2 separate regions of the Homo sapiens genome follow, and region 1 is linked to region 2. Evidence: fine-mapped expression QTL. A gene starts in region 2. The other region holds a variant in brackets. All regions are shown on one strand. Distances are between the middles of the regions. Region 1 has its middle 29 kb from the start of TREML1. Region 2 holds the start of UNC5CL (unc-5 family C-terminal like).

Evidence for each region. PIP is the estimated chance that this variant, and not a neighbour inherited with it, causes the effect. A credible set is the group of variants that fine-mapping cannot tell apart.
Region 1: its variant is the best candidate, but not a certain one, in a credible set for the expression of UNC5CL in whole blood (TOPMed, PIP 0.89).

What each region holds. Positions count from the first base shown.
Region 1 is chr6:41,120,696-41,129,236 of GRCh38, reverse strand. It overlaps the pseudogene ADCY10P1. Among named protein-coding and RNA genes, the nearest start is that of TREML1, 29 kb to the left of the region's middle. The variant G/A (reference allele first, on the strand shown) is at 4,666.
Region 2 is chr6:41,034,364-41,042,904 of GRCh38, reverse strand. It overlaps UNC5CL (unc-5 family C-terminal like), which reads left to right and starts at 3,684. Exons shown (of 9, transcript NM_173561.3): 1 at 3,684-3,743; 2 at 7,770-8,215. The coding sequence starts at 7,831. It overlaps TSPO2 (translocator protein 2), which reads right to left and starts at 438. Exons shown (of 4, transcript NM_001010873.3): 1 at 127-438.

The DNA of each region.
Region 1 (8,541 bases), 86 kb before region 2:
GTCAGGAAACAACAGGTGCTGGAGAGGATGTGGAGAAATAGGAACATTTTACACTGTTGGTGGGACTGTAAACTAGTTCAACCATTGTGGAAGTCAGTGTGGCGATTCCTCAGGGATCTAGAACTAGAAATACCATTTGACCCAGCCATCCCATTACTGGGTATATACCCAAAGGACTATAAATCATGCTGCTATAAAGACACATGCACATGTATGTTTATTGTGGCACTATTCACAATAGCAAAGACTTGGAACTAACCCAAATGTCCAACAATGATAGACTGGATTAAGAAAATGTGGCACATATACACCATGGAATACTATGCAGCCATAAAAAATGATGAGTTCATGTCCTTTGTAGGGACATGGATGAAATTGGAAACCATCATTCTCAGTAAACTATCGCAAGAACAAAAAACCAAACACCGCATATTCTCACTCATAGGTGGGAATTGAACAATGAGATCACTTGGACACAGGAAGGGGAATATCACACTCTGGGGACTGTGGTGGGGTCGGGGGAGGGGGGAGGGATAGCATTGGGAGATATACCTAATGCTAGATGACACGTTAGTGGGTGCAGCGCACCAGCATGGCACATGTATACATATGTAACTAACCTGCACAATGTGCACATGTACACTAAAACTTAGAGTATAATAAAAAAAAAAATTAAAAAAAATAAAAAAATAAAAAAAAATAAAAAAAAAAAAAGAAAATGTGGCACATATACACCATGGAATACTATGCAGCCATAAAAATGATGAGTTAATGTCCTTTGTAGGGACATGGATGAAATTGGAAATCATCATTCTCAGTAGACTACTGCAAGAACAAAAAACCAAACACCGCATATTCTCACTTATAGGTGGGAATTGAACAATGAGAACACATGGACACAGGAAGGGGAACATCACACTCTGGGGACTGTTGTGGGGTGGGGGGAGGGGGGAGGGGGGAGGGATAGCTTTAGGAGATATACCTAATGCTAAATGACGAGTTAATGGGTGCAGCACGCCAGCATGGCACATGTATACATATGTAACTAACCTGCACATTGTGCACGTGTACCCTAAAACTTAAAGTACAATAATAATAAAATAAAATAAAATAAAATAAAATAAAAAGAAATAATTTCCCGCCGGGTGTGGTGGCTCATGCCTGCAATCCCAGCACTTTGGGAGGCTGAGGTGGGCTGATCATGAGGTCAGGAGATGGAGACCATCCTAGCTAACACGGTGAAACCCCATCTCTACTAAAAATACAAAAATTAGCAAAGTGTGGTGGCACATGCCTGTAATCCCAGCTACTCAGGAGGCTGAGGCAGGGGAATCACTTGAATCCGGGAGGCGGAGGTTGCAGTGAGCCAAGATCATGCCATTGCACTCCAGCCTGGGCAACAGAGAGAGACTCCATCTCAAAAAAAAAAAAAAAAAAGAAAGAAAAAAAAAGAAATAATTTCCCTATAGAGAATCAAAAATTGCCTTTCCAAATCTTCTCTGTTAACCTTAATACTGAGTACAAGAGTCACCACTCCTCATCTGCAAGTGACATAAGTGGCTCAGTTTAATGGTCATCTTTCTGTCACTTTTGGTCCCTCCATGTTCACCCTCAGCATCTCTGTCTACCTGCAGCATTCACTTGAGAAGGCCTCCTGAGTTCTGGATGGTTTTGTCTGGAACTGAAAACTATCTGTAGGGAGAAAAAAATATGATTAATTCTCCATGTTTGGATGAACTGAGGACATTTTAAATTCCTGACTACCTTTCTTCTGCAGTTTACAACACAAAATTAGGATGGTAGTTTGTAAATTCCTTCACAACTACTTGTGATTCAAATAATAACTCTCTTCATTCCCAAACCTTTAAACTAGTTCTGATTTTGAAGGAGGTGCTCAGTAGTTTCAAAATGAAGGAAAAATAAAGAATGTGTCTATCCTGGTTTGCTGGCTATCACTAATAGTGGAAATCCTTGAATACATATGGATCAATTTCATGACCAGATCGGAGTGAAGTGTAAAGGCTAAAACCAAGTGAAGAAAATTGTGACAGTATAAGATACCACAGTTCCCTAGTCAGTGACCAAGAGAGCTTTCCAGCTTTACCTAGCAGGCTTTTAATTAGCCTTTATCCTAAAGATTTGACTCTTCTTCTAAAGCTGCCTTCTAATAGATCACAACAGCAAATATTAGGAATGATGTTCAGATGTTACCCATTGGAACTCACAGCATGGATGGTGGGATTGATAAGGAGTCTAAGAGGACTGTTTTAGGGAGGATTTGGGTTAAGTAAAAGGACTGGCTTGCTGATGATAATAATGTTAAATCACAGCTAAGATAACTGAGGATATTGGCAGCTCTACTGCAGTACATAACTCCAAGAGGCACCATCATATCATAGCCTCTGTAACAGTACCCTCTGGAATCAGGCAGTGCCTGGTCTGCAATGGCAATGCACAAAGGCCTTGGGTCTGGGAAGCCTCCTTAAGGTTCTGCTGGGCTGAGAAGGTCTTGAGCCTTTTTACTATAGATGGACCAGGCTGTCTAATCCAAAGCAAAATAAATAAATAAATAAATAAACAAAACTGACCTCTTTTTATTTATTTATTTATTAATTTTTTTGAGACAGAGTCTTGCTCTGTAGCCCAGGATGGAGTGCAGAGGCGCGATCTTGGCTTACTGTAAACTCTGCCTCCCAGGTTCACACCATTCTCCTGCCTCAGCCTCCCGAGTAGCTGGGACTACAGGTGCCTGCCACCACGCTCGGCTAATTTTTTGTATTTTTAGTAGTGATGGGGTTTCACCGTGTTAGCCAGAATGGTCTCGATTTCCTGACCTTGTTATCTGCCTGCCTTGGCCTCCCAAAGTGCTGGGATTACAGGTGTGAACCACTGTACCTGGCCAAAACTGACCTCTTAAAAGCAAAAAAGTCACACAGGAAATATGAACAATAGCACAATTTCTTCACAATACCAGACTTTGGAAAGCACAACAGGTGCAAATGCACATAGAGCTCATCAACCAATGACTAATTGCTCCAAGTCATTGGTCCACCTTCATAGTCATGATGCTATAGCTAGAAGAGGAATTGTATCATACACCAAATCCCTCATTTTAGCCTTTTGCCAACAACTATCTATCATTTTCCACATACCATCCACCCCACCCCCAATACCAAACCAACTCCTCTTTTATCAAAGTAGGGAAAGAGGACTTGGTTGGGTCTTGATAGCTATCTTCAAGTATGGAAGAGAATATAACTATGAAAAATGGGGGAAACTACAACGAGGCAGCTTACATCCTGATGAAAGAAGAAACTTTCTGACAGCTGGAGACAATGAGCTGTTCTGTAATGTAAGCTAACTGAAAAGGCTAAACAAAGATGAATGAACTCATCTGGGATGCAGTTTAACAGGATATGGTGAATATCTATTAACTAATAAAACCTTCTTCAGGTAGCTAACTCCTGCTTATCCCTCTAGATGCAATTCTGACATGATCTACTTCAAAGGAGAATCTTCACTGACATATTTCCCTGGCTGAGTTAATGGCCCCTTCTCATTTTCATTGCTTTTACCATGCCATACTAGAATTCTCTATCTATATGTCTATAGTAACCCCCAAAACAGATAGCTTCAAGAGTGCAAAGACCAAGGCTTATTCACACCATATTCCTTAGTATAGAATCTGATACACATAAGGACTCAATGTGTGTGTACTGAGCTGAAAAATAATAGTAATAATCAAAACAATAGCTAAAGGGTATTGAGCAATCACCACATGTCTGGCACTGTTCAGAGCACACTATATATTTTAACTAATTTAATCCCCACAATGACCCAGTAAAGTTGATATTATTATTTATTAATTAATTTATTTATTTCGAGACAGAGTCTCACTCTGTCACCTAGGCTGGAGTGCAGTGGCGCAGTCTCGGCTCACTGCAACCTCTGGCTCCCAGGCTCAAGCGATTCTCCTGCCTCAGACCCCCAAGTATCTGGGTTTACAGGCGCCTGCCACCATGCCTGGCTAATTTTTGTATTTGTAGTAGCGAGGGGGTTTCACCATGTTGGCCAGGCTGGTCTTGATCTCCTGACCTCAAGTGATCCACCCACCTAAGCCTCTCAAAATGCTGGGATTACAGGTGTAAGCCACTGCACCCAGCCCATGAAGTTGGTATTATTATGTCCCCAATTGATTGAGGTTAAGTAACTTGCCCAAGATTGCCAATCAAAACAAATATGATCTCTAAGGTAGTTTTTAACTCTGAGATTACATTTTTTTTTAATCTCTAGTACTTCAGGAATAAATAAGTGGTTCTTTCTACCTACTTTTCTCCTTTAATCTGATTTCAACTTTTTGATGAAGAACTCCAAGTACACGAATACCCATGTATTCTTTCTGCCTCCTGGGTTTACCTTGGGGAGAAGGCAGCTGCAATTTTTCTGTGATCACTTGTGTTAGCACTGAGCCAGTATCTCTGTAAGTACAGAATCGAGAGGTCCCCTTGGAATTCTTAGTAGAACAAACTGCAAAATGATGAAAGGGGACAAAGTCTCCTCCATGGCAGCTCCCACAGCGGCAGGCCAAAACTTGGAGAAAGCAGGCACATTCAAGGTGCAGAGCTATCTGTTGTTCCTTGGGCCAGAGCTCCCAAGCAGCTGCCC[G/A]TAGCAGAGGCACTCCAAATTCCAACACCTCAGTTTGTGGTAGGGATAATTCTTCTTGTAGCCTGAGAAGAGAGGCTGACCCACCATCTGAAATTTAGGAAAATCTAAGTGAGATTTTCCTTTATAATCCTTTGTGCTTCAATATGGCAAACTCCCAAGCACATGGCTGCTAGTGTGTAAGAAAATTCTATTTACAACTCTAAGCTAATATTACTGCCTCCTTTGTATAAAAAATTTTGCACCATTCTAAGAGTGATACTGACCATATCTTGTATAAAGTACAACAGAGAAGAAATGATCAGTGGTACAAAAAAATCCTGTACTTCTATACCACTGATTTCTTTTTTTTTTTTTTGAGACGGAGTCTCGCTCTGTCGCCCAGGCTGGAGTGCAGTGGCGGGATCTCGGCTCACTGCAAGCTCCGCCTCCCGGGTTCACGCCATTCTCCTGCCTCAGCCTCCCAAGTAGCTGGGACTACAGGCGCCCGCCACTACGCCCGGCTAATTTTTTGTATTTTTTAGTAGAGACGGGGTTTCACCGTTTTAGCCGGGATGGTCTCGATCTCCTGACCTCGTGATCCGCCCGCCTCGGCCTCCCAAAGTGCTGGGATTACCACTGATTTCTTAATTGTTTCTCCTAAATTGAGGTTTTACTTCAAATTATTACAAATGTCAAATCATAGGAAATTCTCTGTTCAAATATAGGGCCCAAACATATTTCAAACTCAAAGGGAAAGTATTTGTGAATTCTATGTGCTTTGGGTAGTCCATGCTACCATCTTATTCTTTCATGTGGATAATTCGAGATTGCAAGCTATTTATATCTTGCTTTGTTCATGTCTGTTTCAATGCCACATGTGTTTGTCTTCCTTGTGAGTTTCTAAAATTGGGGATGGTTTATCCTTTTATCTCATTCTTTGCACCTAGAAGCCAATAAAAGATTATGTCAATATTTTCAGAACCAAAAATCAAAACACAAATACCAACACCTGGGTTAAAAAGGCGCTAGAATTCCTGAAATGAAGACAAGTCTGAAAATACAGGATATTTTTTCACTATCCATGGCTCTTTCATGGTTTAAATGATAATTTTCTCTCTGTTTCTTAGCCATAGGCTTTGAGAGAGAGACCCTCAAACTGGGTGTGGTGGTATGCGCCCACTGAGCCCAGGAGTTACAGCCTGGGCAACATAACAAAACTCCATCTTTAAACAAACGAATGAGAGAACCCCTTGATATATGATATTGATGGCCTTTCTGAACACAGATACCCCCACAGGGACTCTTTGTTCAGACCTGAGAAAAAGGGAACAGCCCTTCCTTACCTAACTTTGTCTTCTTCTCTTTGGTTCCATCAATGATGTCGATAGAGGAAGGCATTAATATGGGCTCAGCAGGAAGCTCTTGGCTCTTGTCAGACCAGCAGAGCACATGTATATCCACAAGAGCTCTCAAGACCTGAAGTAGCTTATTTTTATCCCAGCCAGGCAGGAGGTGCTGCAGCAAATCTATATGGAAGGAGTGACCAATGATTGCAGCACACTTGACCAGCAACTGTTCCTCTGGGCTCAGTTGATCCAGTTGGCTTACTGCTATTTCTGCCAAAATCAATCAATCAGTCAATCAGCAGTGAACAAGATTTCTACAAATCTAGAATATATCATGTTGAAAATGTGTACAGTTTTTTTTTTAAATAAAGATGAAAACTTTTCATCTACCCCTGTCTACTGCTCCCACCTCAATCCTCCCTTCTCCACTTAGCCAAACTTCTTTGCTTATGCTAAGAACAACCTCTGCTTGGGAAACTGAATTTGGACTGGGAAAACTGAATGAACTGGTGGCAAGCCACAGATTTGGGCTTCCTTGGGTATAATAATTCTTGTAAAAGGTCATGCCTCTTGCAGAGCCTGAAAGTGATGCCTGTTCGGGCCATTATAAGAGATATGGCCTTCAGTTGGTCCATGAGGCCTCTAAGCACCCATGAGTCATGGTTTCATTCCTCACAGCTGAGCTATTACTTGAGGTTCCAGAGAATAGCCCCTGGAGTGCTATGTAAACTCCTGTAAAAACTCTCACTGAAGAAAAGTACCTGCTGTTGTCCTGTTAGCATCCTGTATTTCCTTCTGAGTAAGAAAAGCCATTGTTAAGTATGGTCTATCATAGTTCTATCAGTGTAAACTGTCTAGTTGAACCTAAAACCTTCAGAGTAAAAAGCTTATAATATAATAGCTAACAGTCATGGAATATTTATTATGTGCCATAATTTATTTAATTTAATCCTCAACTAGCCCCAAGAGGTAGGGACTATTATTATCCTCATTTGACTGATGAGTGAGAAGTTGACTAACTTATTCAAAGTTCCATAGTTGGTTAGTGCAGGAGCCCATGGTGCCCAGGGTTTTCTGACTCTAGAGCCCTGGCCCTTAACTACCATGGTGTCCTGAACTGCTGTTTCATGTGTGTGTCTTATTTTCTCAACAAGACCATACTTTACTTGAAGGTATGCTGTTCATTACAATATTCCTCAAGAAGGCTTAGTATTAGTACCTTGCCCACCAAACACTTGAATTAAATATTAAAATAAGAAAAATTCATTTCTAAGAAGAACATCCCCTCTCCAACTATGCCTACCTGATTCTGATAGTTTCATTATTCTTTATGGCATCAGTCATTCTACTTTGCACTCTTTTTTTATTAAACTCTTGCTATGTGCATAACATTGTATCTTCACTAACACCATGGATTTTCTTAAATCTTAGCAACATCATCTTCTTTGCTTACTGTCTACTCTGGAACAAGAATATGCACAAAGGGAAACTCACGACCTATTTTGTATTAAATAATTGGAAAACTTTTCCAGGTCATCAGTCAGCCCCAAAGAGAACAATAAGCTCGCTTAAGTAAAACCTTACTCAAGTAGCATTACAAGTCTTCAAAGAGCTCTTCAGGCAATGCCAGAACTTATTTCTAGAAGGTGGATTTCTTTTTTAGAAGAAATGAAGCCAGAATGATAATGAGAGACCTATACTCAACTACTCACCAAATCACTAATTGCAATGATATCTGTAATTGGTTCACTTGAAGTCTTCAAGGGACTTACCTTTCAAAAAGGGTAGGAGAAGTACTGTATCCAAGTTCACATCATCCTTGACTGTGCAGACATAAAGTTCCTGGCCTTCCTCAGAGTTGGCAGGAGAAATACTATACATTATGGATTTCATGGCATTGGCTATAAAGAAAACAGGCTATGACTGAGGAAAGCACCATTCTCAGTGACTGTAGTTTTAAAGGCACAAAAATATAATAATTTAGTCAAAAAAAAAAAAAAACCTAAAGGATGAAGATGACTGGAGTGTACCATGGTTTAAAGTGTTTTACCCCACCTGTCTGCCTGTTCTCTAATTTTCTCTTATAAACTAACAACATTCTCTGTACCAATCGGTATCTTACAACTAATCACTATTCCTGTTCACCTTATAACAGCTCTTGCTTCTATTACATCACAGCTCTGGGATGCCTTCTGCTTTTATACATACTTCTACCCTTTATTCCTCTCCTAATTTCCTCCCTTCTCCCATCCCCCATCCAAATCCTCAAGTCATCCTTCTCATCAATAGTGTACAATTCTTTTTTCTGGACTTTCATGTTTATAAATCGTAATTTCCTAGCCCTACCTCTTGGGCTGCTTATAAAAGGAACTATTGTAGATTGATTGGATTAAGTTATCTGAAGCAAATCTTGAGTATTTTCACCCTACTTGTATAAGATTTGTACAGTGTGCTTATCTGGGAAGGCCTAGTGTGGCCCACAATGTTAGCAAGGAAAAGGTATGTACCTCGTAAAGGCCAAGTAATGTCATGTTGGAGAATGAGCTTCAGC
Region 2 (8,541 bases):
CCTCCTAACCTGACTCATTTCCTGGCCTGAGCCCCTCAGAGAAGGTCTACTCACGGAGGTCCTTCCTCTCTCCCTGGCCCAGCTCCAGTCCTGTACCTCTGAGCTCTCTCCAACCCCAGGCCACACCTTGCCCATCTCCTGGCTTCCATGGACTTCTTTTCTCCACAGCACTCCTCTGGCACTTGGAGGACACTGCCCAGCACTGGTAACTGCTTCTAAGTGAATAGGCCTTCCTCCAAGTGCTTCTGAGTCCTGGAGATCAGGTCCCGGGTGATGAGCTTTTCTGCAGTGGGCAGCGCTTAGCCAGGTATGTAGCTGGCCCTCACCGAGAACTGTTCTACCTAAGCTGATCTACCAACCTGGAAAGTTCACAATCTGAAGGCAGGAGCCAGAAATTCCTGGGGACTCTTTTCTAGTCACGAATGCGGCAGCACATCTGTCCCAGGCTTATCTCACCATATCAGACTGGCACACTCATGGGGCCCACCCAGGCTGATCTCCTGCCCAAATTCAAACTTGGCCTGTTGACACCGTGGATTCCTTTTTCTGAACTTTTAGCTCTCTTCTACCCCTGGAGCCATGGGGTATGAGCTTCCTGCTCCATCTTTCCATTCCCAGAGTGTCAGGATGTAAGCACAAGCATCCAGGTTTCTTGTGGCCTGACTTTTCAAGGAAACAACTGCCTGGTCTTTGATTAAAAAGCTGCCAAGGTGGCATGTTGCTTTGCATGTCATTTGCATGTGGGACAATGTACAGACCCTCCTCCAGCCAAGGCCCCACCAAGGCCCCACAAATATCATTCTTCTCATTTGTTCATGATATTTCAGCCTCCCCCCATGATTAACCAGATTTGAAGGAGAGAAAACAATCTGATTATTTTCAGTATTCTGGACTGACTATCTAATCCATCCTTTTTTTTTTTTTCTTTTCATACAGAGTTTCACTCTTGTTGTCCAGGCTGGAGTGCAGTGGTGCAATCTCGGCTCACTGCAACCTCTGCCTCCCTAGTTCAAGTGATTCTCCTGTCTCAGCCTCCCTAGTAGCTGGGATTACAGGCGTGCGCCACCATGCCCGGCTAATTTTGTATTTTTAGTAGAGATGGGGTTTTGCCATGTTGGTCAGGCTGGTCTCGAACTCCTGACCTCAGGTGATCCACCCGCCTTGGCCTCCCAAAGTGCTGGGATTACAGGCATGAGCCACTGTGCCTGGCCCTAATCCATCCTTTTCTGTCAAGGGTCAGGGACACTGGTCCTGGAGGTTCTGGGACAGAGCTGAGCAGCATGCCCACCTGTGCATATTTCTACTTGTCTTTCTGTGCTCCTGACTGTCCGTTTGCTCATCTTCTGCCTTCCTGTTTTTCTACATTTCTGTCCAGTGGTGGAGGCCCCCTCCCTGCCCCTCCCTGCCCCCATCCTCTTTTCTCCTGACACCTGCCTCTCCCAGTGCCTCCTGGTTCCTAGGCCTGTGCTCCCCTTACCTCTGGCAGCACACCTCCCAGGCGGGGGGCCTGATGACATATGATGTGTGGAAGGCAGAGGAGGGTGGGGCTGGGAGGAGGGTGGGGCTGGGAGGAGGGTGGAGTGGTGCTCCCTGCTGATCTGCCTTTCTCAGATGAGAAGGGTGGTGACACTGGCTGGGAAGTCCAAGTTGCTGTTTCATGGCCCCAAAGAGTTCCTCTCAGGAGGAGCCCCTCTGGTCTGCCAGACCCTCCTTGGTGCCTGGCCTCTGGAGGCTACCCCTTGATGGAATGTTTGAGGGCTTGTGGTGAGGGTTTGACACTGGCCCTCCTGTGACAGCTCAGCCCCCAGTTATAATGCTGTTGATGCCTGTGGTCTTTGCATCCCATGAACCAGCTCTGTGGCCATGGGAGTGAGTGGTAGGAGCCTTCACATTTCTTCAGAGCCTCCTTATAATTGGGATTGTCCCCAAGAGTGGCAAGAACTAGCTTGGGAAGTGAGTTCATAATCCATGAACACAGCCCCTGGTTATAGCCTCCTGGTTGGCATGACCTTCCTGGCTTAGAACCCTAGCTTGACAGATCTTTCACAAACCCCTAGGACTTTATGACTCAGAGGAGAAGGCAGCTGACAAGTGGAGGTGGGTGGGGAGTCAAGGAGGAGTGACCTGGCGCTTCCTGGCAGAAAGTCCTGCCTCCCAGCCGCCCTAAAGAGGGGTAGGGGAGAGTGTCCCTGTCTGTTGGCAAAGTCCAGCCTCCTGTGTGACTCAGACAGAGCTTTGTTCAACAAAGACAAACACCCCTACCCCACTCCTTTCATTCCCTATCAAAGTTCTGAGCACCCCTTCCTGGCTTGTCTTTAGGCATGAGGTCTGCTTCCCAGGTTGCCCGCTCTCTACCATCTCTGCACTTTGGGGTACTGGGCTCCCCTGGGAGGTTTATTCCACCCTCTCACCTCCACCAGGGAAGGAAGCAGAGGGGAGGGCATTGCAGTCAGAGACAAGAGGCTAGAGAATTATTAACTGAGACAAAAGCAGAGGAAGTTACTTATTTTCTATGGGAGATGATAACTAGGGGCCTGGGGGGGCGTTCACCATGCCTCCTCAACTGCAGGAGGCCAGACCCTGGTGACAACGGTTACCATCTATTGACCACCCATTCTGTGGTGGGCATTTGACATTTATTAGCTCAATAATGACAATTATTATCTCACACAAGGTAGATATTCTTAACTGCATTTGACAGACAAGGGAATTGAGGTTCAGAGGAGTTAAGTAGCTTGCCCAATATTACATACCCAACGTGTGGCTCACCTGGGCTCAGTGTTGGCCAGTTGGAGCCAAAATGCATCCTTTTCCCTCTCAACTGCTTCACTCATTCATTCAAGACATGTTTATTGAACACCTTCTATCTATCAGGCTGTACCAGGAGCTGAGGAGACAGCCGAAAACATGGGAAAAGTTCCACAAGGAGTTTTCATTCTTGTGGTGCCACCGCTCCTAGGCAGAGTTTTAAGAACTCAGAATGGCAAATGGCCCCAAAGTTCAGTTGTCTCCCAACCGGCAGTGTCTCTGCCAACTTTGGGTGGGGGAAGTAGAAAGCACCTTGTGTAAGGAAAAATATGGGTACATCTCAGGTCCACCAGCAACTGGTGAGTCATTAACCGTCTCAGTGGCTCCACTGTCTTCTCTGTGTGGGGAGCGGGTGGAACTAGATGCTCTCTAAGCTCCTTGGACCGGTTGCATTGGCATCAGCTGGGAGCTTCTTTGAGCTGCAGAATCTCAGGCCCCATACTAGACCTACAGAATCAGAGCCTGCATTTTAACAAGATCTCCCAGGTGACTGTTGTGCACATTATAGTTTAAGAAACTCAGATGAAGGTTCCCTCCTCCTCCTATCTGCTATTTTAATAATAGCCTCTGGCTGGGGACAGCCACTCACCAGCAGAGGGCACTGTAAGGAGGGGTTTCAAGGTGCAGCACCTACACCCAGGTTGTCTCCCTGCCTCCCTCCTTCCTTCCAGACCTAGACTGGAAAGTTCACTGACTTCTGGGATCCTCAGCTAATCCCTTACCTGGGCTGGACTTTGCCAATAGACAGGGACACTCTCCCTCACCCCTCTTTAGACAGCTGGGAGGCAGGGCTCTGCCAGGAAATGCCAGGCCACTCCTGCCTGGATTCCCCGCCCACCTCCACTTGTCTGCTGGCCTGCCGACTGAATCTGGCTGACCCTTGTTTCTCGGAGAAGGAACTGGACCAGCCAGCAGCCTCTAAGAGCTCCTAGACGGTAAGTTGAGCACCCCCTTGGGGCAGCTGGAGAGGGGATGGGCATTGTGATGGGGTTACCTGGAGCTTCGGGGGAGGAGCCAGGCCAGCTTAGCCTGCCTGCTGGAGTGTAGGGACCCTCTGCTGGAGGAGGGGAGGAAAATGGGACTTGGCCAATGGGTATGAGGACCACTGGGATGATTCTGTGTCCTGCGGAAATGTCTACTATACTAACAAATGCCATTCATGACTTGGGTTTGGACCATCCATCCCAGTACTTGTTATGTTCTGCAGTAACTGGACATCTATCAGGTGTTGGGGAGGCACAGGGAGAACCAGTGAGGTGGAGGAAAGGTTGAGAGTTTTCTTAAAGGGTATGAGCAGAACTTTGCAGCAGGAGTTTGGATCTTTGTGCTGGAGGATGCAACTGCCTAGGGACAGGTGATGGCAGCATTCTAAAGGACTCTCGTTTCGGGGACCCGCTACCCAGGGTGATCTGGGGTCTGGAGCAAGACAGACTGGAGGAGTGGGTAATGAGGAGTCCAGGCATGGGGTTGGGATGCCCCAAGTCACACTCGAATGGCTGCAGTGCTATAGTTGCCATTCAGCAAGACTCCGGACCTTTCCCCATTCTGGAGCCAGAGGGAGGATGCAGTGAGGGCCAGGGCAGCCTGGAAGAGCAGTCACCCTGGGAGAGGCCCAGTGGGGCTTTGGGAGTGGTGCATGCCAACTTCTCCAGGGTCGGAGGTTGAGCCAGGGGACTCTACTGCACCACCCAGTGAGGTGCACCTCACTGGGGATCTGGACTCTGGTCTTTGGTGGCCCCAGGAAGGTTACTGCTGTGTAAGCGAGCTGGGGCCCCTCCTTTCATCCCTTTAGCAATTCCATCCCCTGCCACTGGTACCTTGGTAGGTGGGGGTGTGGTGTAGTGGGGTGGGTATTACCACATAACTGAGGATGTAAATTTAGGTCCTTCTATTTGTCTTTACTTCATTTTTGCTTCTTTCTCTTCCAACTTTATTTCTTCTAGAGAAGGAAAGGAAGATACTTGGGGAAAAGAAGGGGTGGAGAGAGAAAGGGGGTATCTCTGGAAGTCCTTGTTCGTCTTTGCTCCTCCTTCCTGCCTGTCTTCAGTTGTTTAGTAATTCCCTATCCATCTTCACTGTGGGGAGAAAGCTCGGATTCCTTATCTGTGAAATGGAGATAAAAATAACACCTCGCTCCTAAGGCTGCTGTGAGGATGAGATGAGACAAGCCATGGAGAGTGCTTTAACACAGTGGCATTGAGTAAAGCTCTGCGAATGTTAGCTATTGTTATTACAGTTGGAATTATAATTATTACTAATGTGAAAGAACCAAAAGAAATGATGGGACATCAACGGTAGCTTGCTGCTCCAACCCCCTTCCCATCAGCTTTGGGACACTGCCAATTCACTGATTCACCTGTGTGCCCTCCAGGATGCCTGGTTGAAAAAGGCTGGTGCATTGTCTGCTGGGTTGGCTCTTTAGGCAAAGAGAACAATGCCAACCCCCGCTTCTTATTCACACTTTCAGTGAGGACATGGGAGAAACAGGTACTGCCCCAGTCTTCAATCCTGAGGATACAGTGGAGGTTCTGCCCTGGTCTAAGAGGCACTAGGAAGGGGCTTCAGTTTTCATGGGTCCTGAGGTTGGAAGGAAGAAGGTGGGCCAAGCCTCAGTTCCAGGTGGGTAGTGCAAGTGAAGGGCGTGGGGAGGACTGGATACTGGAAGCTCTTCCAGTGCAGCCTCTAGTGAGTCAACCAGAGGGGCCTCCCAGGGCTCTGAAGGAGGACGTTGTGCCTCACAGAACTCAGCTACCAAGCCAATGAATTCCATTCCTGCAGAAGCTCCTTGAGAGCGGAATAAGACGTCATCTTTGGCAGGATTGAACTTCCCACAGTGTCCGATACACAGCCGGTGCTTAGAAAATGTTCATTTGAGTGGGAAAATCACACATGACAGCACATAATCAAGAGTGACTCAGTATGGTGGGATGGCTGTGGAGAGAGATTTCGCGAGCTGGAGGCTGTCAAAGGCCGGTGCACCAGCGGGAGGCACTATTGAATGGGAGGATCCACGTAGGGAGAGGAAACAAGTGGGGAGAGCAAGTGAGTGGAGAAACAGAAAACAGCATGAGCAAAAGCCAGAGGCTAGAATTAAGCAGGTGTGGGGAGCCTGGGCAGGCTACAGGGCAGGCGTGTTGGAAATTGTAGGGGCTGGAAGAGGGGAAGTAGGAGGAGGCGGAGGTGGGTTCTGGAGGGCCTCAGGAAGAGCTACTGGGAAGTCTCAGCCTGTGGCCTGGCTGGGTAGCCAGGTGAGCAGGAGGTGAGTGTATGCTTTTGCCCTGCCTCATTCCAGCTTCACTGTAGGGCTGCATCTTTGTGTTTTGTCTTCTTCATTTTTTTTTTTTTTTGCTTCCACTTTTAGCTTTTGTTGTTCTTGTTGTATGTTGCCTATCCCTGTGAGCTACCTTCAGGCCTTTCTGGCAGAAGGAGGGGCATAAAGAAACACATACATTTGGACAGTGCTTTCTCATCTACAAATACTTTTCACATGACCTTATGCCATCCTCACCATTACACAAAGAGGCACTTTTTCCCCACTTTTAATAGCTTCAGAAAAGAATTACAAAGTTAATACAAACTACATGCTTGATGTGAAAAATTCAAAGTACAGAGAAAAGGATTTAAAAAAATACAAAGTTTTTATTCACACCTTCCACCTTCTCAATTTGTTGTGACTCATGGGAATAGTTTGGGGGTGTGTCCTTCCAGACCTGCACAGTCTAAGACCGGATTCATTAGTACACGTGGCTACTGGGCACTTGAAATACAGCCAGTCCCAAGTGAGCTGTTCTGTTCATATAAATTACACATGGATTTCAAAGACTGGGTATGAAGGAAGAAAGTAAAAATATCTCATAATTTTATATCGATTACCTGTTGAAATAACATTTTGAATATATTGGGTTAAATAAAATGTATTAATTTCTCCTGTTCTTTTTAATGTGGCCATCAGGAAATTTAAAATTACATGTGTAGTTCACATTACATTTTTATTGTACACCACTGCTCCAGACCTTTCTCTATACCTTTACATTTCCATATATGCACCCATAAATATGTATCTATTTATATGCAGTTTTGTTTTTCACATTAATGAGCTCAGAATATTTTATCTCTCTGCGACTTGCTTTTTCCACTTATAGATTTTTTTGTATCAGCACTTGTAGATCAAGGTAGATATTTGGACAGATGAGGAAACTGAGGTACATTAAGCAGTATTGAGGCAGGAGGTGGGATTTGATTCCAGGCCAGATAGAAAACTGGCTGAAACAGGGAAAAGGCACCAAAAGCACCTCTCCATAAGACATGCCCACCAGTGCCATGACAGTTTACCACTGCCATGGCGATGCCTGGAAGTTACTGCCCCTTTCCATGGCAGTGACCCGAAGCTACCACTCCTTTTTCTAGAAATTTCTGAATAACCCACCCCTTACTGCATGTAATTAAAAGTGGACATAAATATGATGGCAGAAATGCCCCAGAGCTGCTACCCTGGGCACACTGCCTAGGGTTAGCTCTGCTCTGTAAGGAGCATACCTCTGCTGCTGCTATACTCTGCCACTTTAGTGAAAGTTGCTGTCTGACACCACTGGCTCACCCTTGAATTCTTGCCTAGGTGAAGCCACAAACCCTCCCAAACTAAGCCCCAATTTTGGGGCTCTCCTGCCTTACATCAATATGATAAGTTTACCCAGCCACAGTGACCAAGGTGACATTTGAACTCATGTTCTCTAACTGTAAACCCAAGCTCACTCTGCTTCAGAACAGTTTACCTTGATGTATTAGGTCACGGGGAGCCAGGGTAGGTTCTCGAGTAAGAGAGACAGGTTAAAAGAATTGGTGTGACTAAAGTGTGCAGTGTGCGCTGGAATGAAGACAACTTGCAGCTATGTGTAAGCCAAGCCTTGACCTCCACAACTTAAAAGGGCTTACCCTGACACTGACCCCTTCTTCCCCACCAGGCCTTTGGCTTTGGCTGGCACAGGGGTGAAGGAGAGCCAGCGGCATTGAGTAACCAGGCGAATGTGCCCCCAGGAGAGTTCATTCCAACCCTCCCAGTTCCTACTGCTGGTGGGGGTCCCAGTGGCAAGTGTCCTCCTTCTGGCCCAATGCCTTCGATGGCACTGCCCTAGAAGGCTGCTGGGGGCCTGCTGGACACTGAATGGTCAAGAGGAACCAGTGTCCCAGCCTACCCCCCAACTAGAAAATGAGGTCTCAAGGCAGCACCTGCCAGCCACACTGCCAGAGATGGTTGCCTTCTACCAGGAGCTACACACACCCACTCAAGGCCAGACCATGGTCCGCCAGTTGATGCACAAACTGTTGGTGTTTTCGGCTCGAGAGGTGGATCACCGCGGCGGTTGCCTGATGCTCCAGGATACAGGCATCTCCTTGCTCATCCCACCAGGTAACAGCTCCTGGCTCTCATCTCCGCATACAGTTGGTCAGACTGTACATTAGGTCACCACATCTGAGGGAGCAATGTTCATAGACACCTTTTACTTCTGATAATTGTTTATATTTTGAGTATAGCTTTATTGACTTCAGGGATGGACATATTACATATCTTTTGGGACAACTTCCTGGCAGGTGGAAGTAAAGTGCCTTGTTCTAATGAATCAGTATGCTGTGACAATTCTCTAGTAAAGGGAGGGAAGAGCACCATTTGCAAATTCACACAAGGCACACTATGGGCTAGCAGCAGCCTGGGTGGAAAGGGAAGTGTCTTGCTTA